4 linked regions of the Homo sapiens genome follow. The protein of the gene in region 2 interacts with the protein of the main gene of each other region in a pairwise test. Each region holds a gene or a part of one and is shown on either strand. Other genes may lie near its edges. The genes, in order: PPP6R1, ANKRD28, PPP6R3 and YTHDC1.

Region 1 (7,025 bases), on a different chromosome or scaffold from region 2:
TTCCTCCCTCGGCCCCGTACTGTCCACTGTGCAGGGAGCACAGGCAGCCACAGAGCAAGGTGCCACGGGCGGGGATTTCTCTTGGTGGACACCGAGACCCGCCTCTGAGGGGCCGGAGAGCCCCTGGGGATGGGCAGCATGCATGGTCTGTGGCCCGTATCCCTCACCTCGGCCTCCTGGGCTCCAGCAGGGTCAGCAGCACCTGGATCCCACTGACGATGACAGACTGGCTCTGCTCCCCCTCGAACATGTTGCTTAAGAGCTGCTCAATCGTCTCCTGCCTGCGGGGGCAGGGGCAGGGGTCAGGGTGAGGGGCCAGGGGCCCAGGGCTTCCCCAAGTCAGCTCCCCCCAGCCTTAGCCTTGCCCGCACACCCACTTCTCCAGGGTGGCCAGCAGTTGGTCAGGCTCTGGGCTGTCCTGGACTTGGATCATCTGCTCCCGGCTCAGGCGGATGATGTCACACAGGGACTGGGATGCGTTGGAATGTTGCTGGAACGGGGAGAGACAGGTGAGGATCCTGGTCGGGCCACCGGGCCCTCTGCAGCCTGGTGCTGGGAGCCCCTCCCATGAGCTGACCATCCAGGGAAAAATGGTCACCCAGACACAGGGACACGTGTTACGAAGGAGGAGGGCACAGAGGCACCAACTGCTGGAGGGAAGATGGTGGAGAGAACAGGAAGCCCGGAAGGCTCCCCAGGACAGGAGGCATCCACACAAGGCCCTCATGACCGCATACAGGGCTGGCAGCACCGCCCACAATGACCCAGAAGGCTCTGACTGATGAGTGAATATGCCCAAGCTGGTCTATCCACACAGGAGAGTGCTAATCAGCCAGGAAAAGGAGTGAAACTGATACATGCAACCACATGAATGAGCCACAAAAACATCATGCTAGAGAAAGAAACCACACACAGATCACGTAGTACATGATTCCAATTATATGAAATGTCCAAAGACAAATCCACAGAGACAGAATAGTCTGGTGGTTGCCGGGGGCTAAGAAGAGAAAGGGGAAGATCAGGAGGAGCTGCTAATGAACACAGGGCATCTTTTTTATTTTTTCTGGAGAAAGGGTCTCGGCTGGGTGTGATGGCACATGCCTATAATCCCAGCAGTCTGAAAGGCCGAGGTGGGGCCGGGCGCGGTGGCTCACGCCTGTAATCCCAGCACTTTGGGAGGCCGAGGCAGGTGGATCACGAGGTCAGGAGTTTGAGACCAGCCTGGCCAACATGGTGAAACCCCATCTCTACTAAAAATAAAAAAATTAGCCAGGCGCAGTGGTAGGCGCCTGTAGTCCCAGCTACTCGGGAGGCTGAGGCAGGAGAATCGCTTGAACCTGGGAGGTGGAGGCTGCAGTGAGCCGAGATCGTGCCACTGCACTCTAGACAGAGCGAGACTCCATCTCAAAAAAAAAAAAAAAAAAAGAAAGGCCAAGGTGGCAGGATCACTTGAGCCCAGGAGTTTGAGACCAGTCGGGGCAACATAGCAAAACTCTATCTCTACAAATACAAAAAAATTAGCCAAGAATGGTGGTGTGCATCTCTAGTTCCAGCTGTTCATGAGGCAGAGGCAGGAGGATTGCTTGAGCCCAGGGGGGTCAAGGCTACAGTGAGGCAAGATCACGCCACTGCACTCCAGCCTGGGCAACAGAGCAAGACACTGTCTCAAAAAAAAGACACGGCCTCTACATCACCCCAGGCTTGAGCGCAGTGGTGCCATCACAGCTCACTGCAGCCCTGAACTCCTGGGCCCAAGAGATCCTCCCGTCTCAGACTCTTGAGTAGCTAGGATTACAGGTGTGCACCACCAATGCCAGCTAATTTTTCAATTTTTTGTAGCGACAACGTCTTGCTATGTTGCCCAGGCTAGTCTCAAACTCCTGGGCTCAAGCAATCCTCCAGCCTCACCTGCCAAAGCGCTGGGATTACAGGCAGGACTTGTTTTTTGGAGTGATAAAAAATAATCTAAATTCAACAAGATGATAAACGCTTTGAATACCCTAAAAGCGCTGAATCGTAAGCTTCGGTGGGTGAGTGGTATGCTGTGCAATTTACATCTCAGTAAAGCTGCTACAAAAGAGAGAAAAGAGAGAAGCATAAGCAGAGCTGAGTCTACCCAACGGGCAGCTGCCAGGGCTTGGCAGTGTGGCCCTGGGCCATGCCTCAGGGTCCTCACAGGGACAGGCCCCAGCCTGGGTGAGCCCAGAGCCATCTCTGCTCTGTAAGCCTGTGCGCCTCTGAGGCAGAAGTTGGCATTGGGAAGGACATGTTGCTCCCAGTGGCCTCGGATATCTGAGGCTCTTGACAAACACCCACTCTACACTAGGCCCTGTGCTGGGCACCAGGACAGAGATGGAGACCCAAGCTGGAGAAACACATGGACATGGGGTCCCCCAGAGCTAAAGGGGAGGATGTGAGGGCGCTTGAAAGCAAGGCTGCTGGACGGACACTTAGAAGGACAGCAAGGGGTTCAATCAGGCAGGAGACAGGGAAAAAGCTGCCAGGCCCAGCAATAGCACAGGCCAGGGTGGGCAGGGACGGATGTGGGGCCAGCGCTTGGACAGGCGATGAGGAGGGCCCCTCCCTGCAAGGCATTATGTGCCAAGTTCCTGGGTCATGAAAAAAACCTTTCCAGCACTTTCGGAGGCCACAGTGGGAGAATCACTTGAGTCAAGTTTCTTTCCTTTTCTCAAAGGGCATGGATACACCTGGTTCTCAATGCTCTCTTTTCTCACCAATTTCTTTTCTTTCTTTTTTTTTTTTTGAGACAGGGTCTCACTGTGTCACCCAGGCTGGAGTGCAGTGGTGTGATCATGACTCACTATAGCCTTGACCTCCCGGCTCAAGCAATCCTCCTACCTGAGCTTCCCAAGTAGCTGGGACTACAGGTGTGCAACACCACACTCAGCTAAGTTTTTACGTAGAGACGGGGTGTTACTATGTTGCCCAAGCTGGTCTCAAACTCATGGGCTCAAGTAATCCTCCCACCTCGCCCTCCCAAAGTGCTGGAATTACAGGCGTGAGCCACTGCGTCCAGCCCCAATTCCTCTTTTAAAAGTGGGGAAGTGGGCATGGGGAAGGAACTCTAAGGGGAATCCGCAGGGGCATCGGCAGCACTCACATTCTCATCCTTCGACGGGTGGATCTGCTCAATCAGCCGCTGGACGATCTTCTCCTCGTTGAGCCACTGAGGGTGAGAAGGCGAGGGATGCATCGCTGTCCACCACGCCCAGCCCCCCACCCCCAGAGGAGCCGGCCCTGCTCACATTGACAACATCCTGCCTCAGCTGAGGCCGCTCCACACAGGTGAGCAGGCGCAGCAGGAGGTCCATGATGGCCGAGGTGCCAATGTGCTGCAGCAGCAGGTCCACGAAGTCATCCTTCTTCCGAAGAAAGGACACGAGCTGGGGGCACACGGGCTGCGTCATGCACAGGGCCTGGCCCAGCCACCACCCCTCAACCCACGGTGGCGCCAGGGTGGGGGCCAGGGCACCTGGTCTGTCTTGCGGTTGATGAGGATGCCCATGACCTTGCTGAAGAAGCTGGCCAGCAGTGGGTTGAGGCTGCCGGTGCTCTGCAGGAAGCCGTAGAGCCGGTTCAGAAGGGACTCATCAGCACCCAGGGCATCATTGATCTGGGGCACATCTGAGGTCAGAATCTCGCAGGCCACACTGGGGTACCTGGGAGGCAAGCACAGGCGGGTGGGGGCTCGGGTCGGAGGCCGGGGGCAGGGGGCGGCAAGGCTCCACCCTCTTCTCTGCACCGGGCACTGGGTTTCTGGGAACTGCAGAGACCCCTGTCCAGGAAGGGGAAAGGGCAGAGGACAGGGTGACGCAGAAACAAGGGCCCACACCAGGCCTCCTCCACCCTGCTAACACCCAACCATCCCATCCTAGGCTCCTTACCACCCCCAAGACAAGCTGGTCCTGAAGCTCCTGCGCTTCCCAATCCCCCAGCAGCTAACACTCATCCCTTTTGCCTCTCAGCGGCTTCACTTGCAACCCCGTATGCTGCCCCAGCTCCGGCTGACTCCTGGAACCTTGCTCAACTTCCAACCTCACCTCCTGCCTCCCTCCTCCAAACTTTCACACGGTGCCTGACGGCTCCAAGACAAGAGCTGCCCCACCAGCGTGCCACTCAAGGCCCTGAGGGGCCACAGTCTGCTCCAGGACTGTGGGGAGGTACCCCTTGGGAGGCTGAGGCAGGCATATCACTTGAGGTCAGAAGTTCAAGACCAGCCTGGGCAACATGGCGAAACCCTGTCTCTACCAAAAATACAAAAATTAGCTGGGCGTGCTGGCTTATAGTCCCAGCTACTTAGGAGGGTGAGGCAGGAGAATCACTTGAACTTGGGAGGAGGAGGTTGCAGTGAGCCGATCATGCCTCTGCACTCCAACCTGGTGATAAAGTGAGTCTCAAAAAAAAAAAAAAAAGTGTCTTTTCAGCATCGCTTGGATTAAAAAATAAGTAAAGTGTCTTCAATAGCAGACAAGTGTTTCACAAACATACAAAAAAAGTTTAATAAAAAGTAAATAAAATAAAAGGCGGCGAATAAAGAGAAAAACCAGCCGGGCATGTCGTCACATGCCTGTGGTCCCAGCTACTCGGGCAACTGAGGCGGGAGGATCACCTGGGCCCGTGAATTTGTGGCTGCCGTGACCCGTGACTGTGCCACTGCCCTCCAGAGCACAGGCTTGGTCTGCACCCGGTGAGCTGTGAGGCCTTGTGCAGGAGCCTGGCTGCTCCCAGCCTCGTCTTCCTCATCCCCAAACTGGAGTTTACTGACACTGACGCATTTCAGGGTAGCTGTGAGGCTTGCGTAGTGAAGGTATGTGTGATGCTGATAGGGACGGGCTGGCCAGGAGCTGGGGAACTCACTTGTAGCGCAGCCGCTCCTCACCGCTATCTGGCGGCTCCTGGGTGACCCAGGCCACCATTGCTTGCAGGTGGGGTGGCTGCAGCAGGAAGTCCAGCAGCTTGCGGTTGACGACCTTGCACTCCTGCAGCACGTCTTCCTCGTCCAGCAGCTCGGGCAGGCTCAGGTCCTCCCGCTCCAGCAGCGTGTCCAGGTGCGAGCTTGTGTGCAGGTCAAACTTCCAAAACATGGCGCCCTGCAGGCATAGACACAACCAGCGCCGCGTCAGACGCCCCAGGGAGTCCCCACTGGACGAGGCACTGACCACAGGGGCTGAGTGCCCACCTTGGGCACAGCCTCTCCCCAAGTCCCAGCCCTCTGCCTCATGCTGAGCCCGGCCCCGCCCCGGGACTGCCCGCAGGCTCACTGCCTCCATCACTCAGGCTTAAGGCTCCCAGTGAGCACCAGGCTCCTGCAGTTGCCCTCGAGCCTGCCCCTCTTCCCCCATCTCCAGCCTCCCGGCCGCCTCGCCTGAGGTCCAGGGGGTCATTTCACACCTGAGGCCTCAGGCCTGGTGAAGTCCCCAGGTGTGGACCATGTGCAGGGCCTGCGAGAAGAGGCTGGACCCTGTGCACTGAGGGGCCTCGGGCCCTGTCTCCCCATGAGGGTCTGGGTCCACTATCCCTACTTTTGGGAGAGACACTGCAGAGGCAGGGCCTTAACCTCTGGCTTCAAATTTGCTTCAACCTGTATTTGCTCAACAAACTCAGATGCCCGATGACTTCCAGCACACGGCTGCTGCTTGGCCCAGCAAATCCCCCAAGGCTACGTGGGAGGCATGGGGCGGCGGCAGGGGGAAGAGAGGAAGTCTGTGCATCTCCAGGCTGTGGCCGTTGCCTGGACACCACTCACACACAAACACACCCCAACCATCCTCTCACCCAGCACCTGGGCTGGAACAAGGAAGAGGAAAAGTTGGAAGGGAGGGGCTCCCAGAATAGTCACTGACCAGGACCTGAAGGAACCCAGGGTGGGATAGACAGATTCTGTGGGGGAAGAACAAAGCTGGCAACACCCGGCCCTGACCCTGTCCCCATCTGGAGCTGGCTCCCGCCCTCTGGAGGACAGTGCCTGGTTCCTCAGCCTGGTTCCAGCCCCTAAACGCTCGTGCATGGGAACTCACTGGCAATAAGGAAACACACACAGAGTATTAACAAGATGCCAGGCAACTCCATTCTGAGCCCCTGCCCTGTACTACATCACTGCTCCGCAGAGCCCTAGAAAGCCTCCACACAGACCTTCCACTACAGACCTGACCTGTGACCTGTGCTCTGGGCACTTGATGACAATGGTCCTGGCTCTGCATGTGTGCTGTGCACATGATGTCCAAGCTCACCAGCAGCCCCCAAGAAAGCTGTCATCACTCCGCCACACAGGACAAGGGGCAACCAAAGCCCGGTAAGTCAGGCGGCATCCTGGAATCTCGAAGGCCATCTGGTCCCAGCAGACAGCCTTCACGGAGCTCTCACCAGTTAAGACACTGACCAGAGCTCACGCTCATTACCTGCCTCCTGACAACCGCATCACCAGCTAAGGCAGAGGCCACTGCTACCCCCAAGTCACTACAGAGGATGCTGAGAACAGAGCAGAGCCGGCACAAGAGGCCAAGGGTGCCTCTCCCGCAGGCCCTCACCACCATCACTCCCAGGCACAGATGCTAGTCCCTCTCCTCCAATGCCCTTCTGCAGCTTCTTCCAGTTCAGTCATTCCCTCTGCACAGGCCTCCACCATCTCCTCGAGCCCTGCTGACCTGTCACCTCAGTGCCCACCAGCCCCCAGGCCTGACTCAGCCCCAGGCCCCAGGGAAGAGACAGGGAGACGTGGAGCACCAGGCCCAGGGAAGAGACTTCATCGGAGCTTAGGAGAGCAGCCTGGGCTGACAAAACGCAGGACAGAGTCCCACACATGGCCTCAGGCAGGTCGAACGCCTCTTGGGCCTCCTTTCCTCTCCTTCCTGGCTAGCTTGAAGCCAGGCCAGCCTGGGGCCAGGATCTCCTTGCTCATCCACCCTGACCACCCTAAGGCTGGGCTCAGCACAGAAGGTTGCAGTCCAGACCTTGCTCCCAGTCTGCCCGTCTGCCTCGGTAACTCTAGATTGGCAACAATCTTG
Region 2 (6,887 bases):
TGCATAAAAAATAAGTGTCCTGGATCATAAATATATTACCTGCAGAGAGTTAAGTCTGATCTATTATGAGGATTTTGAGTTGTGTTTTGAATACCTAGTGACTTTCTTGCAGTGGCTCTAATAATCACATAGATAATTGCATGGATTCTGGCCTGTGTAGCCTAGAAAGCAGCTATTCCTTGATTTCTCCCCACTCACCCTCTACCTCATTTTCTTTTAACTCTGTTCATAAGACTTTTTTTTCCTAAAGTATATGGATAGATGAGGCGTAGCTCAAGAAGATTGGTGAGGATTCTTGATCTGTCAGAAATGTTTTCTATAACATTGTTTGAACCCACTTCCTTACCATCTTTCACCACAAGCTTTTTATTTTCAAATACTCAGAGACCAGCTTGTTACTTGCCACAGAGTAGCCACTTAATATACCCTGAGTATTCTATTCTATGATAATACGGAGTTCACAGATGTGTAAGACAAAAGGTGAGGTTTAGGTTGGATCTTGTTGCAGAAAGGAAAAATCGTTTGTGTCAAAAAAAGAAATTCAGGTGTAACAATTAGGAACCCAAAAATTATCTTCCAGTGACTTAATGTTTTTATAATCAGTAAAAAGGTTTAAGCCAGCTTTACCATTATGTGATTCCATTAATAGTAGGAGTAAGCTCTTAATAGGATACATTTTAGTATAAAGAATAGAAGGATTATAAAGCTGTCAGAGTTGAACTTGTTAGCTTATTAAAAACTTAATCTAATATGGCCTAAAAAATAAGTACCAAAGAAAATAACCACATCCCCTTGATATTTCTCTAAGTGGAAAAAAATGTTGAACTTACAGTTTGCACAATCTTTATCAGCAGTTTTTTATCAGAAGTACTTTCTCTGTTTCTAAGTTCTTAAATATTCACTTGTCTCCTTTTAAGATGTGAGTTCCTTGAGGGTAGGAGCCTGTCTTATTCAATAGAAGAAGACACAAAACAGTGCTGCTAATTTAAATAATTTAAAAACTGACATATTTCTCTTAGTATTTTTTATCTGCTTTTGATTTTATAATATACCATGGGCTAGTACTTTCTATCCTTTTTCCCAAAGGAATTTTACAGTCCCTAAACTGTAAAATCTAGTGAAGGTAGAAGAATGGAAGAACCTGTAGTCTTTCTTGCCTAAGTTTACTGCTCCCTCTCCCCAATTAACACTTAGTATGTGCTTGTCTAGTTACTAGAGTCTAAAATGAGCTTTTAGCAGACTCTCAAGAGATCACTGAAAAGTGTGGGGACTTGGCAACTGAATGGGATCTCCAGACATTAATCTGAATTACCTCACTTGTACTGGGTCAAGAGGAGGAGGAGTTTAATAGCCTTTGATCCACTCACTGGCTTCACAAGGGATATCATTCAGCTATCCCAAATATCCATAACAGTAAGGTTATCTTGTTTAGATTTCACAACACTATGAAGTAAATTCTGTTAATGTCATTTAATAGATGTTAAAATGAGCACAGAGAGGTTACTAAATAAGTGAGTAGCCCAGGATCCCAGAATTAGGTTAGTGGGAAGCCTGGATTAGAACTTCAGGCAATTTGACCACAAAATAGCCTACATTCTCAAGCACTGTACTGTTACTCTATTTCTCTTAGACAAAAATCTTTGCAGGTTATTTTTTTCTTATATAAGTGTCAAGAAATTTAGGCTTAGGGAATTTAAGTGGTTTGTCCAAGGACACAGCTAGGAAATGATGGAAGCAGAATTGAACTTCAGGTGGGCTGACTCCTGAGCCCTTAGTTTTAACCATCACCCCATACCTTTGTTTTATATCCTGTCAACTTCTGAAATTTTAATTGTTCACTTATTAGAGATATGAAACTCACTTTGTTGCACCTTAATGCCACCTATATTTTCTGGTTAAAATATATGTATACCAACACACCCCCACTATTCTTGTTTATAAATCTCCACCCTTCCAGAGTCTCGTGACGACAGAATTCATTTCAATGAAATTATTTATAGGTGGAAGAAAGTGGAAGGAGACAATATGTATGAACACAGTCCCTACCTTCAAGGAGTTTGTTTTCTGGTTGGGAAAGACCTAAGTGTGGAGGTTGACTTAGAACAAGAAACAGGATGTACCTGCTTAAGTCTAAGTAGGTGAACTTAGGTACTAGATACTTTGGAACAAGTTAAGATTGTTAAGATAAAAAGAGATTTTGCTTTGTGGGCTTGGGAACCCTGAAGATGAAATATAGGATATTGTTACTATAGTTGTTTCACTTTCAGATATTTCAAATATTAAGATTTTTTGATTCAGCTATGTGGAGATGGATAACATAATTGATGTATGTTCAATATTTACATACCTTTAATTTGGCATAAAAGTATTTTATATATTTTAAAATATAACTAATGAATTGTTAGCATGTTTTAATTGGTACAAATATGTTAGAGTTATTGCTTCTTCCATAGATTGATACATTTTATAGCTTTCAATGGTTCTTGTTTTAAATTCTGACATTCTTATATTTGTATCATGCTGGGATTTTTTGTTTTTTTTTTCCTTTTTATGGTTTTAAGACTTGCTTTGAAGTACCCATTTAAAAATAACTCGTTTTAGAATATAGCAATAAATAGTATATTCCTTTGTTACCTAAACTTTTCACAACCTTTATAGGTTACCTGTTTGTTAAGATCACTTTTATAAGCTAGTATTACAGGTTGCAAAGATCTGGAGATGAGTGGAGAGAAGAGAGTGTGTCTGTATGTGTGTGTACTCAGTGATAGCAGAATAGATTAGAAAGAGTATGTGTTTAAAATAACACACAACTTTATTAATTTATACAACTTTGGGTAAAATACATCATTTCTGAGTCTGTTTTTCCCTCTATAATGGGAATACAGCAAGGTTATTGTATTAAATGAGAATGTACAGCACATAGCATATCACAGATGTTCAAAAGTAACTATTATGTTTATTATTGTTTATTAATAAAAATGCTAGTTAATATGAAGAACACAGATTGAAGGGGGACCATGGTATTTTCTTTGTAAGTTTTCTCTTGAGAAATATCCCCCATGTTGGGTAAACAGAGAAAGAAGAAAAAAAACGATGAAATGATTGGCTTTGACATTTATTTATGGCTTTGGGAAATTTATAGGGAGGGAGATTATTTGTATTACCCTGTGCCCTTTTGACATAGGTAATTCAGGACGAAGGACATTTTTTTTTTCATGTACCTCTTTAACAGATTTTTAAGGCTTTATTCCCTATCCAAATGGGAAGGTAGGATTATTTTATTTCTTCAGTGAAAAATCAAATGATTTATATAATTTTAGAGTTAGGATTTCTACATTATGAAATTTTTGCTTTTCCCTTTAAAATATGAATCAATGATTGATTAAATTCACCAATTTAGAAATTGTTAGACAATCTTAAATTTCATTTGTTTAAGCTTTGCATTCTAGAAAATAAAATACACCTGGCAGATTAAAACTGATCTTGGTAAAAATATGAATAAAACAATTTCATGGTTTTTATAATCTAATAAAATATTTCTCCATCTTTAAACCTTTTTTATGAGTCCATTGCAGGCATATTCTTACTGCAACTGTCATTATAGGGTTAAACATTTGCTTTATTGTAACACACGAAAGCAGTTAAGCCGTTTGGAATTGTTTACTTGCTAAAACCACTGTTAGTCAGCAGAGGCAGTACACCAGATTTCCTTGTGGCTTTTAGTGGAAAATGTTAAAAGCGCACTCATTTTTCAGTTATAGAATTTTTTAGTTTGATTTGGATTAGTCACAGAACTGGCATGAACCTTCTAATTGTGAAGGCTGTCCAAATGCACTATTTTTTTCTCCTGCTAGAGGAAGTTACATCCCGAGAAGTAGCTCAGATCTCTGGTAAGTGTAACATGTGAGCATTACTAGGCATTTCATCCTGTGGGTCTGCAGTCTTTGCTCTTCAGACTGTTGCTCCGTTGGAATGCTTCTGTGGGACTGATACTGAGGTTCTATAGATATTTTTTAAGGACCTACTCATTTGGGGATGTCAGTGGTGTTTTGCAAGATCATCTGAGGAACAGGAAAGCATTTGAAATCTGAAAAGGATAACTGTGGCGGTTTTCACAGTGGAAGGAAACTATATTGGCAAAGAGGCAGATGACTGAATAAAGTAGTTGGCTCAAAGAAGATGCACAGTCTGCTATTTTTTTCTCTGAATGAAGACTGTTTAATGGAAGCTGTATTCATGTGGAGATCAAAGGAAACACTGGAATGATACACTACTATGTTTTTCCCCCCCCTTTTTTTTTTTAAAGAAAACAAAAAGCCTGAAGCAGTAATTTGAGCTCAAATGCCTTCTAATTCCTTCACAGCCTGCTTGTTCTACTAGGATTCTCCACTAACACCATTTCTGCCTGGTGCCTGTGCCCTTTTGCTGGAGCAGCCACAGACAACTGCCTGATGGAGAAAGAATGAACGCTCTGCCTTGCTTATGCTATCGATGGGAATAAAGCTAACTGTGTTTCTTCTATTATATGGGAAACCTGGATTAATCAAGCTGTATTCTAGTACCAAGAGTCGTATTGTCTCTTGTGGTCTGACTCATCACATGTAAACGTACTGCAGCTTTGCTATTAATGCAGAGTGGTTTTTTTTTTTTTGTTTTTGTTTTTTGCCCCTTTCCCAAACACTGAAAGAATTGTTAACCTCTGAGCTTCATTTTCAGGATTTGTGCTGAGCTCTAGATCTTTTTTCTGTGAATAGTATCTGCATTAAACCAGTGATGAAGAAATGAAGACAAATTAGAAGTGGAAACAGAATAGTGAGATTTTATTTTTTATTTTCAATTATAAGCAAAACAGCTACTGGTAACTATATGACCTTGCAGGCAAGAGTGGGTATCGCTGTGATCATCTCTGTCACAGCAGTTGTTTCTCATTTCATTCTATATTGTGTGGTGTTGTGTCACCAAAAACAATGATTGTTTTGTGCAAGTAAATTTCAGAGATAGAGCAATAAGACTATTTTGGTAGAGGAAAAATATTTTTAAATGAGCTTGGACTCAGTTTTAGTTATTGACATGTTGGTGTGAAATTTCTTCTTAAGTATTGCAGTAATCCAACAGAAATAATAGAATTTCGTTATATTTAGGAAGTTACAAATTATGTAGTCATAATTTTAAACTTGTTTTTCCAGTAGTACTTATTAACTTTAAAAAAAAAAAAAACCCAGCTGTGCTGTTCAGAGAATGTTTGTAAGTGTTGTACAGAAGAGGAGGAAAAACTACTTGTGCTCTTCCAACTGTGACTTTTATCACATAGCTTGGAATTTAGTGTTTTAAAAGATCGAATGAGTCGAGTGTGTATTGTTGTTTTGGAGGAGGTAGAAGATGAATCTCCTGCATTCATTTCTAAATTGCCACAGGAAAATAAATCCCTACATTCTCCACCTTCTGGAAATGTATTGGTAAGATATGTAAGTTTATATGTTTACTATATTCTACTGAACTAGTAGTATAAATCTTGTTTTTTAAGAATAGATGTAAATTTCCAATAGTTTCTTTACAAACCCAAATTAAAGCAATACGTGTGTAGATATGATGCAGTATTTTTGTATAAAATGCACATTTTTCGTTTTTACTTTTTTGAATGCTGAGATAACATTTCAGTCTTTACTATGTCTTAATCTCTTTAAAAGACTGTTTAAAAATAATTTGAGAATTAGTAGTTATGGCAACCACGTTTCTGTTTTCATTTTGTGGTTTCAGAAACTGATGTAACAAGAATCAGGAACTCTGCATATTTTAGGAAAGGTTGACTACCCCCAGCAACACTAAGGCATGGCCTTTTCTGTAATGAATTTTATGTATTTACATATAAGACTTTATATGAGATTCAGTCTTCATCTTTAACCTTGGTTTTAGTGCTACTGTCAGCTGGCTCCTTGACTAGTATAGTATACCTTATCAAGAGGCTGTATCGTTGATTAAGAAATTATTATATTTAGTTATGCATGTGTTTGTCTTTTCAAGTTATTTAAGTATCCAGTATTTTTTGGTCTTTGATTAGTGGCTATTTTCATCAACTGCCAGGTTTGCTTTCTTGGGATTTGTATCTTTATACATGTAATGCTAATCCATGTAAGATAATTTGATGCCCCAAACAGACCTTTTCAAAAAAGCCTTCCTTCATGGGCTGGAAATTGCTTAAAAAGTTCTGTCCCACAAGTAGATGTTGAGATCACACATTTGTATTTGGAAGAGTCTTTCTTTTTGTCATATACAGAAACAAAAGGCTTCTACTTACAAGAAATAAAATCTGATTTTGTTTATTATACTACCTAAATTGGGTCAAACTGAATTGATTTTTTTTTTTAATTAGGCCTTTTTTTTCCAAGTAGGAATCCTGTACTTTGACATGATTTGGTTTTATGAAACTTCTGGCTAATGTCAAAAGTGATTATTGCTACAGGGAAGAAAACTTGTAGATTCCAGAACTATGTAAAATATCCTTAGTCACCCCACATGGATGATTCTAATGTTTTTATTACTCTCTTCTATTTTAGCCATCACTGGTGCAAGCTATATTTAACGGAGATCCTGATGAAGTTCGAGCACTAATATTTAAGAAAGAAGATGTTAACTTTCAGGTAAAACAGTTAATTCACTGATGCCAGCCTTTAAAACTGCTTTTTAAAATTCTTTCCTAGAATTGTGATTTTTGTTTACAAGACATAATATAACTCTGTAACAGTTGTTTTAAATGAGGGCAGGAAGGTATTGAGGCAAAAGGGAAAACACTGGACATATACTCAGGGCAGTAGCAGCCAGTAGGGGTCTTTTGTTCTCCCAGCTTTTTACTTTGAAATTTTTCAAACATAGGGAAGTTAAAAAAACAT
Region 3 (7,294 bases), on a different chromosome or scaffold from region 2:
AGATGGGGTTTCTCCATGTTGGCCTCAAACTCCAGACCTCAGGTGATCCGCCCACCTTGGCCTCCCAAAGTGCAGGAATTACAGGTGTGAGCCACACACCCGGCCTGAACTTCTTCAATTTAAGCTCTTCTTTATTCAGAGCTAGTTTTTCCTGTGTTAGTGTATGTGTGTGTTAGCATGTCCTTTCTTTTATGAAATTATGATAATAGTAAATACTTAAAAAAAATCATTACAGAATTAAAATTGGGGGCCGGGTGTGGTGGCTCATTCCTGTAATCCTAGCACTTTGGGAGGCCAAGGCAAGCGGATCACTGGAGGTCAGGAGTTCAAGACCAGCCTGGCCAACGTGGTGAAACCCTGTCTCTACTTAAAACACAAAATTAGCTGGGCGTGGTGGTGTGTGCCTGTAATCCCAGCTACTCAGAAGGCAGAGGAAGGAGAGTCGCTGGAACCTGGGAGGCAGAGGTTGCAGTGAGCCAAGATTGTGCCAATGCACTCCAGCCTGGGCAACAAAGCAAGACTCCATCTCAAAAAAAAAAAAAAAAAAATTAAAATTTGGCAGCTCTGAGTCTGTTCCCAAAATTTAAGTCATGATAGCCAGGTGATGGGTGCTTGAGCATGCAGCCTGCTCTTCTCTCTGCTTTTGAATATGTTTGAAACTATTCAGTTACATGTGTGTTTTTTTAATAATTTGTTATTAATTTTTGCGGGTACATAGCAGGTACATATATTTATGGGGTTTTTTTTAAAGTCTAGATGGATTGAAAAGTTTAATATTAATATGAAACATTAAACTACAAAAGGATCAGGAGGAAAGACAGAAGGTGGTGATCCCTGAAATCTAGAAGTTTTAGGGTAGAGACGTCAATCTGTGTAGAATGCAAAGCTTCTAAGTCATTCCTCTGCTTAAAGCCTGTCAGTAGCTCCCCATGGCTCTCAGGACCCAGGCTGAGCTCAGATACCTCCTCCTCCAGGAAGTCCTCCCTGACTTCAACCTTCTGGTTAGGTTAGAAGCAAACCATAAGTGGAGACCTTAGGGGCCCACTTACGTTGGGCAAGGTACTATATGATTTCATTATAATGTATATGGCCCTGTGACCCACCTCAGAGTCAGGGATGGAGGAGCCTGGTGCAGATACTGGCAAATCCTTTGATGATGAGTGAGTATAGGGATGCAAGGGTCGGTGGGGGTGTTGGGTCCTCCCTGGGCTCCCCAGCACGGAAGGACGGACGGGAGCCCAGCCCTGGCTGCCCCCTCCTGCCCATGGCCCAGCCTCCCTCTCAGGCACCAGCCAGTCCCAGGACTCTCTGAAACCTTTCCTGGGCTCCTTAGTCCAGCTCCAAGCTGCCCCTCTGGCCCTGTGCTACACCTGGTGCTCCCTGCTCTCGCTTCCAGCCATCTTCTCTAGAGTATGGCCAGCCCTTCTTCTGCCCGGAAGCTTTCCTTGGCTCCCATGGTCTGAGCATAAACCCAGGTTCCTCCGCCTGGCTTCCAAAGCCTCCATGGTCCCTTCTGCACCTGCTTCTCGAGCTGTTGCCCCAGACCTGAGATCAGCCCCACCCTGCCTTCCACGGGGTGTGCTCCTTCCACCTTGCTGCCTCGGCCTCTTTCCCTGGCATGGCCGCTCCCGCCCTGCCCAGGTGATCAGCCTGTGAATCCCCTCCCTAACCCCCACACAGAGCACACCTCCCAGGCTGGCTTCCGGCTTGACTATGTTCCTCCATGCCTCTCTGAGTAGCAGGATCAATGTGAGAAAGGTCTGCCCTGTCTGCAGCCTCCCCAGAAGCACAGTACTTTTCGTGGCGCGTACACGGGCTGGTAGATACAGTTGTCCCTCTGTATCCGTGGGAGATTGCTTCTGGGACCCCCAAGGATTCTCAAGTCCCATATATAAAATGGCTTAGTACAGTTAACAACAGAGACGTGTTCTGAGAAATGCATCGTTAGGCAATTTTGTCCTTTGCAAACATCACAGGTATACTTAGCACAAACCCAGATGGTCTAGCCTACTACACACCTGGGCTATATGGGATAGCCTATCGCTCCTAGACTACACATCCATACAGCATGTTACTGTGCTGAATACTGAAAGCAGCTGTAACACAATGGTAAATATTTGTGTATCTAAACATAGAAAAGATCCAGTACAGCTGGGCGCGGTGGCTTACGCCTGTAATCCCAGCACTTTGGGAGGCTAAGGTGGGTGGATCACCTGAGGTCAGGAGTTCAAGACCAGCCTGGTCAACATGGTGAAACCCCCATCTCTACTAAAAATACAAAAATTAGTGGGACATGGTGGCATGCACCTGTAATTACAGCTACTGGGGAGGCTGAGGCAGGGAGAATTGCTTGAACCCAGGAGGCAGAGGTTGCAGTGAGCTGAGATCGCCCCATTGTACTCCAGCCTGGGCGACAGAGCAAGACTCCATCTCAAAAAAAAAAAAAAAAAAAGTCCAGTACAACTACAATATCATAATCTTATGAGACCAGTCTTTTTTGTTTTTATTTATTTATTTATTTTTTGAGACAGAGTTTCGCTCTGTCGTCGAGTCTAGAGTTCAGTGGTGCAATCTCGGCTCACTGCAAGCTCCGCCTTCCGGGTTCACGCCATTCTCCTGCCTCAGCCTCCTGAGTAGCTGGGACTACAGGCGCCCGCCACTGCGCCCGGCTATTTTTTTTTTCTTTTTGTATTTTTAGTAGAGACGGGGTTTCACCGTGTTAGCCAGGATGGTCTCGATCTCCTGACCTCGTGATCCACCCGCCTCCGCCTCCCAAAGTGCTGGGATTACAGGCGTGACCGCGCCGTGACCTCCTGTGGATTTTCATGGGACTCTGAGAGGCGCCTCAAATCCATTTTGGAATAAGGCAGGTTATTAGCATGGGGTCTAACCGTGGGCTGTCTCGGTGTCCTGGGCTGGCTCTTGGGGCGGGGGTCCTGATGTCCGGGACCTCGGTCCTACCTGGGAGGCACAGATATGGCGGGGAACGGGAAGCCCGGGGGAGCATTTAGAAGCTCGTGTGCACAGGGAAACCCTGTCTCTACAAAAAAATTAAATTAGCGGGGCCCAGTGGTGCGTGCCTATGGTCCCAGCTACTCGGGAGGCTGAGGTGGGGGGACTGCTTGAGCCCAGGAGGTGGAGGCTGCAGTGAGTCATGATCACCCCACTGCACTCCAGCCTGGACAACAGAGCAAGACCTTGTCTCAAAAAAGACCCCAGGCCAGGCGCGGTGGCTCACCCCTATAACCCCTGCACTTTGGGAGGCTGAGGTGGGCGGATCACCTGAGGTCAGGAGTTCGAGACCAGCCTGGCCAACATGGTGAAACACCCGTCTCTTCTAAAAATACAAAAATTAGCCGGGCATGGTGGCGTGCACTTGTAATCCCAGCTACACGGGAGGCTGAGACAGAACTGCTTGAACCTGGGAGGCGGAGGTTGCAATGAGCTGAGGTCGCACCACTGCACTCCAGCCTGGGGGACAACAGGGAAACTCCGTCTCAAACAAAACCAAACCCCAAAAGTTCTCGTCTAAGTCCTTCTCCCAGGACAAGGGCACTTATCTCTTGGCGGTGCGTCACAGGTAGGGATATTCCGCGATCCCTCACCTTGACCCCGCTACGAGGACAGCCACCTCTTTCAGGTAAAGAGATCGCAATGGGAAATCATTCTGATAAAAATTCCCCTGTGGAGAATGCAGGCATCGATCCCGTTACCTCTCACATACTAAACGAACGCTCCTCCACTTAAGCTGATTCCCTAGCCCGGCCTAACCTTTGCAGCCGGCGCATATTGTGGCTCACGTCACCACCGGTGTCCCCCGCCGCCCCCGCCCCGCCCGGCCAGCTCGCCACCCTATTGGATCCCTCACGGCTCCGGCTCCACGGCCATGATGGGCTTGGCTCAATTTAGTTTTAAAAAGCATTGGCCACTCGGATTGGTGGTCCGAAGCGTCCGTCAAGCGGAGGACCTGCTGTTGCTACGGCGTAGGGGGTCCCAGCCAGGTTTCTCCCCGTTTCTGATTTGTTTCTCAGGCTCCGGGGTCCTAGAGGTTCCGGATCCGTCAAGTCCATGGGAAAAGAATGCGCCCCTCGCGCTTGACTGACGAGGCTTGCGGGCCAATCGGAATGTAGTCAAAGGAGCCGCTAGGCGATCCAATAGGTAGTAGGGGGCGGGAGAGAGGGGCCAATGAGCCTGGAGCTGGGGGCGGGGGCAGGGCCGCGATTGGCTGAGAGGCGGCCAGAGGGCGGGCGGGGGGGAACTCAAGGCCTGCTTGATACGTCCGCCATTTTGGGCGCTTCGCTGATGGTGTCGGTGAGCGCGTTTCCCGCCTGAGCGCAACTAGCGGCGGGTCGTGGGCACCTCCAGGTAATGGGGGTAGGGGAGGCGCCGGAGCAGGCCGCGGCGCGGGGTGTGCGAGGCGCGCGGGCAGGCGCGGGGCCCCTCCACCTGGCCTCAGCGGCTCAGGGAGGGAACGTCCCGGCCCCTCTCCCCTCCCCCCCCGGAATTCGTCGCTCCGCGGGCCCGGGAGGCGCGGCGCCGAGTCCTTCCCGGCCGCTCCCCGTCCGCTCCTGTTAGCCGGGGGCCCCGCCAGGACGGGCGCCGGGAGCGGGACGCGGTCGGGGCGGCGACTTTGTGCCTCGTTGACGTTCGCGGCCTGGCGCGGCGGGCGGGCGAGGCGCGCCCCTGACCCGGCTCTGGCTCCAGCCTTCCCGCCCGCCGGCCGCGGCCCGCAGTCTCGCCCCCCGCCCGGCCCGCGCCCGGTCTCCGCTCCCGCTGGGCCTCCCGGGGGCCTCGGGGAGCGCGTCAAGTTGAGGCAGCAACTCGCCGTCAAGAGTCGCGAAGACCATTGTTGGACTCTGCTCTTCGGGAAACAAGTTTTGTGGGTTTCTGTTAATTCGCCGCAGAGTCATCGGGATCCACACCAGCCAGTTCCGAGGCTCCCAGTACCCTTCCCAGTGGCTTTTTAACTCCTGTGAGGTGGCTTGTATGTAAACTGTCTCGAATGCCTCCCTGGTGTATTTGAGCCGGGGGTGGGGGGGGTGGGTGGTCCTTCTTGTGGCTTGAAGTCCCTCCCTCTTAAAGAAGCCCATTCACTGTTTACTTGGAGGTGTTTCCTGTTGAGGTCCTGCTGGCTGTGATCACAATTTAGACTTTTTAATTATAGGTGAACGGGATGGGTCTTTGGATGTACCTCCGTGCCCTGACGTTTCAACCGCGTGACTTAATGTCATTTTCCTGGTACTTCACGTTTTCTCTGTGGGGCTTTGGGTCTGTTTTGCTTTTATGGGAGGGGGTGCTTGACAGGCGTTCCCTTTCATCCTCGCAGCACTTGTTGACGGGGTGGTGTCCTTTATTCGTGGGACGTTTACTTTGATTTTGTCCTCAAGGTCATGTTGCAGATAGGCTTCAAGGGGGACAGGGACTCCAGGTTTCCAACCACCGAACTGTGCCTCAAGTAGCAAGTGTATGAGACCCAGTTATGGTGGTGGTTGGGTTTTCCTCACTGTGGAGTGGAGTCAGTGACCACTTTTTAGCTCTGTGACCTTGGGCAAGTTACCCAGCTTCTCTTTTTTTTTCTCTGTAGTATGGGAATAATAATAAGTGTCCCAGCCATAAGTTTGTCAGGATAATTGCCCTAATACATGTAAAACAGCTAGAGCTGTGCCTGGCACATACAGTCACCTCAGTGGCTGATTAGTGGTTAGGCTAGTTAATGGCTATTATTGTTTAATTTAAATTTGATTTTTAAATGTTTAGGTACTATTGGGAAGTCAGATGAGCATTTGAGTCCCGACTCTTGGTGACTGCCTTTAGAAAGCTCTGTGTAAGACTCAGTTGGGCTGAAAAAGTAAAACTATAAGTTATTTTAATTTTTTCAGGACAGGGTTTTTGACCATTCCTTAAATTAGGAACATTTACCGGAGTAATTAATGAGTAGTAGCGCCTCATAATGTTTAAAGAGATGGTTAAATACAGAAAAGCCCATCACAAGCTTAAGTCGGGCTTTGTTCCTCATGTGCTTTTGGATACTAGTTTCTGGGTGACTGCCACCCGAATCAGTAACTAGGGTTTCTTAGTGTAAGTCCTCCTTGTTACTGAAAACTGTAAGGGTGCCGTGGATTGCAGTATTCTTCAGCAAAGATAGTTTGGGAAATAGCTTTTGTCCTGGAGGGATACTTTGGAAGGTATTCTCCACTTCAGCATGTCTGGTCAGGGAGTCTAGAACATTGAACAAAATGCCTGCACTCAGTCAGAAATAAACTCACAATCCTTTACCGCTTGCCCGATACTCTCCTCCATGGTGCTCGAAACCTTGCGTGCACCTTCCCCTGGTATTGTTGTGTTTACTTGGGACTTGGTTTGCTGTATTGGAGATGTGTGTTTTGATGGACTCAGTCTTAAGTAGAGATGAGTATCTTGCTGGTGGAACTTAAGGACAGGAAGAAGATTGTTTTCGGTTTAGAACTCTAGCCTTTGTGTAAAGTATAGCAAAGCAAAGTCAACAAGCAAAAAGTTGTTAGTTTCAATGAACTAATTGAGAATTTGAGAATCAGACCATAGCTGAGCAGAAAATGAATAGAAGTAACATTGACAGGATGAGGTTGCCTAGCTTTTTAAGATAAAGCTTTGGCCGGGCGCAGTGGCTCACGCCTGTAATCCCAGCACTTTGGGAGGCCGAGGCTGGCGGATCACTTAAGGTCAGGAGTTCGAGACCAGGCCAACATGTGAAACCTTGTCTCTATTAAAAATACAAAAATTAGTCGGTCATGGTGGCGTGTGACTGTAATCCCAGTTATTTGGGAGGCTGAGGCAGGAGAATCGCTTAAACCTGGGAGGCGGAGGTTGCAGTGAGCCAAGTCCAGCCTAGGAGACAGAGCGAGACTCAGTCTCAGAAAAAAAAAAAAAAAAAAAAAAGATAGGGCTTTGCACCTATTTGGTAGATTATGTGCTTGTTACAAATAAACATCTCTTTAAAACAAGTGTCACGATCGGTATTTTATTTCTATGACAACTTCCATTGTCTAGTTCTATATTTTCAGTATTTGAGAGGCAGCCTCTGTGTGTGTTTGTGTGTGTGTGTGTTTTGGTCTAAAATTTTACAGTATTTTACTAAATAAGAGTAAATGATAGTGAAAATAAAGCTCTTCTATCTGCTCAACTAAAACTCAGCATTGACTTGGTCCTTAGAAGTTATGGTCTGCACCCCAGTATTGGCTGCTACTTTTTCTAATGTACTGAAAAAAAGATCTGGCCTCTTGGCTTTAAACAGCTTTCATATTTCTTTCCTTTCTTA
Region 4 (7,025 bases), on a different chromosome or scaffold from region 2:
TGTGGCTTCAGGAAAAAAACAAAGCCCACATGAATTACAGAAAGGTCTATTAATTAACCTGGGGGCTATAAACAGGTTAAATGGGATTCAAATTTTCCCCAAAGTGGGAAAGAAATCTGTGACTGAAGAGAATAGTTAATACAAACGATAAGGTTACATAGGAAATGGAAAAGATATCATTTTCCTTTACATTTGGAAACAGACACAATCTAAAGATATCTGAAAATTACTATGTCTGGAATAGCAAAATTGATCATTTTGGGTGGTACCAATGCTGATATGTACTTTCTATCATTTTTCTAAAATGAAAACAGGCTATATGGGTTTTTATTTTTGTTTACTTTTAAAAAATCTTATTTAAAATCAAGATATGTCAAACAAAAAAGCTTCTCTCATCATCTAGATTCATGTTTTTGCTAAGAAAAATTTCTTCAAGATCTGAATGGTGGCAAACACCATTTTCGGACTCTAAATTATAAAAAAAATAGTCTGATAGAAGTAAATCAATGTTTTACAGATGTTTAATAAGTACTGGGTCAAAGCTCACTAATCAGTAAAAAAGTAGATCCAACAGGTCTTCACAGAATCAAATACATTTGTAGAAGACAAAAAGAAAAAATTTCAAGACTATCACAATGAAACAGGCAAATAATGCTATACAAATCTTTTCATAAAATCACTAGATCTTATTCAGAAATATCATCCCCGAACCCTGAACATTTATATTATATACTTTAGACATGCTAAATTTAATACAGAATGAAATAATTTTGCAGAATGTTAATTTAAATAAATTTAAGTTTCAAACACACTTAAAGCCTGGTTTTCCTATAAAAAGGGGTATTACTGTTTTAAAGTTTTAACGAATTCAAATTCAGATACTGGTTGTAGTTTTAGAAAGCACCTACAACCTTTTTCAAGACAACAAATATTAACCAATGCTTACTACTTTTTAAAAATACTTTGTCACTTTTAAAATTTTATCACTTTTAAAATATATCATATATACAAATCATATAAAATAGAGCATGTTTAATCATTCATTACTTTGCAGATAAAGAAAGAGAAGCTCAAATGTTCCAGTTGACCAAATACACTTGTCTAGTAACAAATGGATATTAGTATGAAGTTCCGGCTTTAGAAATTGACAGTTAAATCAGATGGGGAACAATAAAAGCAACTTTAACCAAAGTATAAAGAACACAAATGCAAAATATTAAAAGGGCATATATACTAGAACATAAATTTCAAATTAGTGCACCAGAAAGCTCTATATCTTTAACATTACAACATTTAAAATCTACTGAAATATTCAAAATCAACTATAACACCCTCACTTAAATGATGTACACACTTTTATCCGTATTATAGTCCATAACATCAATAAACTGTGTGGTTTTACCACAAACTGGCAAACTAAAACCTACAGGATAAACATGGCCCATTGCCTATTTAGAATGGCCTGCAAGAATGGTTTTTACGTTTTTAAGGCGCTTATTAACAAGAAAAAAAAAAAAGCAAAGAATATGTCAGAGAACACTTACAGCCCACAAAGTCTATTTGGCCCTTTACAAAGAGTTTTGCCAACCCCTGATATAATACAAATGACCAAATTTTAAGTACTTTTCTCCATCACTGAAACTCCTTATATATACACTGGAATATAATATACAAGGGGAAAAGTCTTGGAGGTTAAGGAAATGCAGGTTATAGCTTGCATTTAGGTATCAGGAAATTCCCAGTCTTTCTGAGTTCAAGATTCTTCACCTCTGATAAGAGGCACTTAAAAAAGGTCAGTTTTGGGGAAAGGAAAAGCAGGACATTTGAATCTTCTATGAGTTTTTCAACCTGTAAGAAGACTCTCCTTCCTTATAACTATTGGACTTTAATAAAACCTGCCTGCCCCAACCCTCTTGCTAATGACTGGGCTATGTGATATATATAAAATCTGGTCCAGAACACAAAACAAAATTCCTTCTTCAACAAAACAGGTATGGTATATGCATACATGTTCTGATTATCTACTGCTGTATAAGATGATCACCCTAAAACTTGACTTAAAATGGTAACACCTTTCATTATGGCTCATGGTTCCAGGGCTCAACCGGGGTCTCCCATGTGGCTGCAGTCAAATGGGGCTGGGGCTGGGGCTGAAATCATCTGAAGGCTTGTTCATTGACAAGTCTCGTTGATGTCTAGGCTGGGAAGATTCAAAGCTGGAGCTTCTCCAACATTTCTGTGTGTGTGATTACTCATTACTATGGCAACCACCGAGTAGGCAGATCTTTTACATGGTAGTTTAGGACTCTCGTGTCCCAACAGAGACGGGAACAGGTAGAAATCCAGCAACACCATCACAGTATTTATTCATCACAAAAGCTTACCTAGCTTCAAACAGAGGGGACACATATTCCAATCACTGTTGACAGAAGTGTCATACATAATACATGACAGATGTTTCCAAAATTACTATAGTTTTATTTAAGGGTAAATATTTTAATTATATACTTGAGGTGCATTTTTAATAACAAAAATTCATTTAAATAGGTCAATGTTAAAGCTTATAGTATTAAGTTATAAAGCTAATGTAAACTGCTGCTTCTGGCCATATTCTTCACTGACTTGAAAAAGTACACTTTGCATACATTTTAATTCATTTTTTTAACGTAGAATGAATTATAAAAGAAGAAACATTTTAATACTCTCACAAGCTACTGCTGTTAAAGACTATAATCATCACTGGCATATCCTTTTTGAAAAGAAATAATTATCTCTTTTAGATATAAAGTAATATCCACTAGTTCTAGGTTGACTTTCTTTTAACCTACCTGAACAAACGTTTTTAACCATTTCCTTTGTCCTGAAATTTAACATTATTGATATTCTATATAGAGATATGTATACTTTCAATTACTTCATAATAGTTTGACAGTAGTATCCCAACCCAAGAATAACAACAGTAAACAAAGATTAGAAATGCCAGGTTAAGAAAAGGCCTATAAGCATACAATTCATGCACTACAAAAATCCTAATTTCTATGACATAAAGCACTTCACATTGAAAGCCTTTTTTAGATGTCTATATAGAGAACTATAGACATTAAAAATCACTTTTTTTTTAATTTGTTTTTTTGGAGACAGAGTCTCTCTCTGTCACCCAGGCTGGAGTGCAGTGGCGCAATCTGGGATCACTGCAACCTCCACTTCCCAGGTTCAAGTGATTCTCCTGCCTCAGCCTCCCGAGTAGCTAGGATTACAGAGGCCCGCCACACCATGCCCAGCTAATTTTTGTTATTTTTAGTAGAGACAGGGTTTCACCATGTTGTCCAGGCTGTTCTCGAACTCCTGACCTCAGGTGATCCACCTGCCTTGGCCTCCCAAAGTCTTGGGATTATAGGCATGAGCCACCGTGCCCGGCCTTAAAAAATCACTTAAAATCTTTAAAAAAAAAAAAAAAAAAATTTTTTTTTTTTTTGAGACAGTCTCACTGTTGCCGAGGCTGGAGTGCAGTGACATGATCTCAACTCACTGCAACCTCCGCCTCTGAGGTTCAAGCAATTCTCCCTGCCTCAGCCTCCCAAGTAGCTGGGATTACAGGCACCTGCCACCACGCCGAGCTAAATTTTTATATTTTTAGTAGAGAAGTGGTTTTGCCATGTTGGCCATGCTGGTCTTGAACTCCTGACCTCAGGTTAAAATCTATAAAATTTTGTTCCAAAATTAAGATGTCACAAAAAGATGGATTTTTTTATAATGTGCCAGTTCAAGAAATAAGCTTAATGAAACAATCCTACATTAAACAGTATTTACATTTAGAGCTAAAATTCAAATCTATCTAAAAGTTTTACACTAGCAGTCTAGAGGATAAACTCAGCTCTTGAATGCTGTTTTTAAAAATTCTAAGGATTTAATATGAAAACCCACTTAAAAAAATACTATTTGATTATTAGGGGCCCAGATTCTCACCTGAAAACAACCAGCTGGAAGAGTCTAGTCTTCTGTTAAGACACAGAGAAGGTAACATATGTCAAAGTTTTGCATGAGACAATCTGGGTTTGTATCTGGTGAATGAGTTTGTATCTGGTGAATCAGTATTACTACCTGAACAAAGAGCATGCTGGCTCTTAAAAAAAAAAAAAAACAAACTCATGATACCTAACGTATTAAGCAAGTACTTTATCTTTATCTGCCAGATTCTGGCATGCACACACATCTGCAACCCCTGCATAACACTGATCTTAAACTTGAAAAAACCCAAGGCTCAGTTTAATACACTAAGGCACAGGAACATCAAACTAGTTTTAGTATACCGTATATAATACTTTGGGAAAGAGGAGGAAAGCTAAAGGGGACAATCCTACTCAACTCCAGAAGATTAACTTCCTTGACAGTTGCAAGCACTGTGTTGTCAGATCTTCCACATTTTCAAGAGGACTCTGAAACCCAGATTTTTATTTGGAATTGCATGACTCTTCAGTGCTGCCTCAATTAAAAATGAAACAGCTGGCTGATAGATTCCACAGTTGGCTGCTAGATTCCTCCGTGAAAGTATAATCACGTGTGAATGTTTTGTATTAATATTATACACAAACTAATAGCAAAATGAGTTTTGAGGTAAAGGTACAGATTCCCAGGATACAGGAAGTAAACAAGGATATAAAAAGAGTAACAGGTCGGGCATGGTGGTTCACACTTGTAATCCCAGCATTTTGGGAGGCCAAAGCAGGCATATAGCTTGAGCTCAGGAGCTTGAAATCTGCTTGGGCAACATGATGAAACCCCATCTCTACAAAAAACACAAAAATTAGTGGTGTGCACCGCACCTGTAGTCTCAGCTACTTAGGAAGCTGAAGTGGGAGAATCACCAGAGTCTGGGAGGTCGCGGCTGCAGTGAGCCCTGATCGCACTACTGCACTTCAGCCTGGGCAACAGAGTAAGACCCTGTCTCCCCGCCAACAACAAAAAAAATCATTATTTTTAAGGCCTGTTCAAAAACTGACAAGATGTTAGAAATAACAAAGCTAGCTGTTTGTTGCTTGGCTGGGGGATTTTTGTTTTAGGTAAACATGGGAACTTAAAATTTACCATAATCTTTACATTCTTGGCCAGGAAGGTCACAAACTTTAACTCTAGGGATATCAGGGTAGAAAATTAACCTTTATCTGGGACAGTCATTTTTTACTGCAGAAGCTTCTGGGTCAGAAGACAGTGCTATTTATTAACATGTGAGGTTCCAGCATCAGACTAAGATTTAGTATTTAAGGAAAGTTAAATACTAAATATACTACACATTTTGTTTTCTAACACAAGGTACCAAAATAAATTATATTTTAATTCATTTAATATAATTTTAGTGGGACTTGGCAATGGAGCAAGATTACTAGAACCTCCCCCTTCTATTGTCTTGTAATGTACGTTGTACATTTAGACCAGTTTCTCAGTTTTTGTCATTGAAAATCGTCATTCCTCCAAATGAAGTTTAAAAACTTGGATTTCCCATCCAAAACCGCTCTTATAAAAACATACAATTTAAGTGCAAAGATATCATTTTAAATTTTCTACCTTACTTATACTATAGGTAAAATAAATATATTGGAGTATCAATATGTACTCTATGCCTTACAGAGCCCAAACTAAAGTGAACCAAGACAGGCAATTTTATCCTAAGAAATTACTATAGTGAGGGCCATAGTATATACACATAGTATATACAAATGTTGTGGCACAGTCATCATTTTGATGTTCAGATACACAAATATTTCCCATTGTGTTACTACTGCCTACAGTAGCACGCCCAACAGATCTGTTGCCTAGGGACAATAGACTATACCATACAGCCTAGATATGTAGTAGGTTATGCCACCTAAGTTTGTGTAAACACACTATGATAACACAACAAAACCGCCTAACAATGCCCATCTTCATTGTTAAATGACACGACTGTGTTTGTGTGCACGTGACTGTGTGCATGTGTGTGCACATGACTGTGTGTGTACATATATATATATATATATATATACACACACACCTGCATGTAACCGTCTGTATAACGGCTGGGCACGGTGGCTCACACCTGTAATTCCAGCACTTTGGGAGGCTAAGGCAGGCAGACTGCTTAAGCCCGGGAGTTCAAGACAATCCTGGGCAACATAGGAAGACCTCGTCTCTACTAAAAATAAAAAATTAGCTGGGCATGGTGGCACACACCTGTAGTCCCAGCTACTAGGGAGCCCTTGGGAGGTTGGGGATGCAGTGAGCCGTGACTGCTCCACTGCACTCCAGCCTAGGCGACAGAAGCCGTCTGAAAACAACTGTGTGTATATATACAGTAGTCCCTCACTTATCCAAGGTTTTGCTTTTGAGGGTTTGTTACCCCCAGTCAACTGAGTCAATCACTGTCCAAAGATATAAAAATGGAGAATTCCAGAAATAATTCATAAGTTTTAAATTGTGCGCTAAGTAGTGTGATGAAATTACGCACTGTCCCACTCTGTCCTGCCTGGAAAATGAATCATCCCTTTGGTCAACAAATATTTGCATTGCATATGTTACCTGCCATTAGTCATTTAGTAACTGTCTCGGGTAGTAGATCAACTGTCCACATATGGCAGTGTCAGTGTTCAAAGTAACTCTTATTTTACTTAATAATAGCCCCAAAGCACAAGAGTAGTGATGATGGCATACTGTAATGACTGTTCTACTTTATTATTGTTGTGGTTGATCTCTTACAGTCCCTGACTTATAAATTAAACTTCATCATAGGTATATACATATAGAAAAAAACATAGTATAGATAGGATATAGTAATATCCATTGTTTCAGGTATCCACTGTGGATCTTAGAACGTATTTACCAGGAAAATAAGGCTGGTAGAGGTTGGGGGTCAGGGGAGAACTGTTGTATAACTTAAACTGAGAAACTCTTAGCTTTCGTTATCATACTGCACATGTCATTTAACCAGTCAGTCAATGAAGTCCAACCTGGTAAATACTCAAGGTACTGAAACACAATTACTGTATACAAAG

What was found.
Region 1: the proteins of ANKRD28 (region 2) and PPP6R1 interact in binary tests that used the Homo sapiens proteins (3 or more experiments, as listed by UniProt).
Region 3: the proteins of ANKRD28 (region 2) and PPP6R3 interact in binary tests that used the Homo sapiens proteins (3 or more experiments, as listed by UniProt).
Region 4: the proteins of ANKRD28 (region 2) and YTHDC1 interact in binary tests that used the Homo sapiens proteins (3 or more experiments, as listed by UniProt).

The regions. Positions count from the first base shown.
Region 1 is NC_000019.10:55,241,999-55,249,023, forward strand, and holds part of PPP6R1 (serine/threonine-protein phosphatase 6 regulatory subunit 1), read right to left. Parts: intron 5,112-7,025; coding exon of another isoform or gene 5,106-5,111; coding exon 4,879-5,105; intron 3,681-4,878; coding exon 3,494-3,680; intron 3,405-3,493; coding exon 3,267-3,404; intron 3,253-3,266; exon of another isoform or gene 3,188-3,252; coding exon 3,122-3,187; intron 491-3,121; coding exon 378-490; intron 282-377; coding exon 168-281; intron 1-167. UniProt on the Homo sapiens protein: Regulatory subunit of protein phosphatase 6 (PP6). May function as a scaffolding PP6 subunit. Involved in the PP6-mediated dephosphorylation of NFKBIE opposing its degradation in response to TNF-alpha.
Region 2 is NC_000003.12:15,794,974-15,801,860, reverse strand, and holds the start of ANKRD28 (serine/threonine-protein phosphatase 6 regulatory ankyrin repeat subunit A), read left to right. Parts: upstream 1-3,881; 5' UTR 3,882-5,339; coding exon 5,340-5,456; coding exon of another isoform or gene 5,457-5,465; intron 5,466-6,554; coding exon 6,555-6,638; intron 6,639-6,887. UniProt on the Homo sapiens protein: Regulatory subunit of protein phosphatase 6 (PP6) that may be involved in the recognition of phosphoprotein substrates. Involved in the PP6-mediated dephosphorylation of NFKBIE opposing its degradation in response to TNF-alpha.
Region 3 is NC_000011.10:68,456,463-68,463,756, forward strand, and holds the start of PPP6R3 (serine/threonine-protein phosphatase 6 regulatory subunit 3), read left to right. Parts: upstream 1-4,289; 5' UTR 4,290-4,365; intron 4,366-5,164; exon of another isoform or gene 5,165-5,238; intron 5,239-7,294.
Region 4 is NC_000004.12:68,340,083-68,347,107, forward strand, and holds part of YTHDC1 (YTH domain-containing protein 1), read right to left. Parts: intron 1-7,025. UniProt on the Homo sapiens protein: Regulator of alternative splicing that specifically recognizes and binds N6-methyladenosine (m6A)-containing RNAs.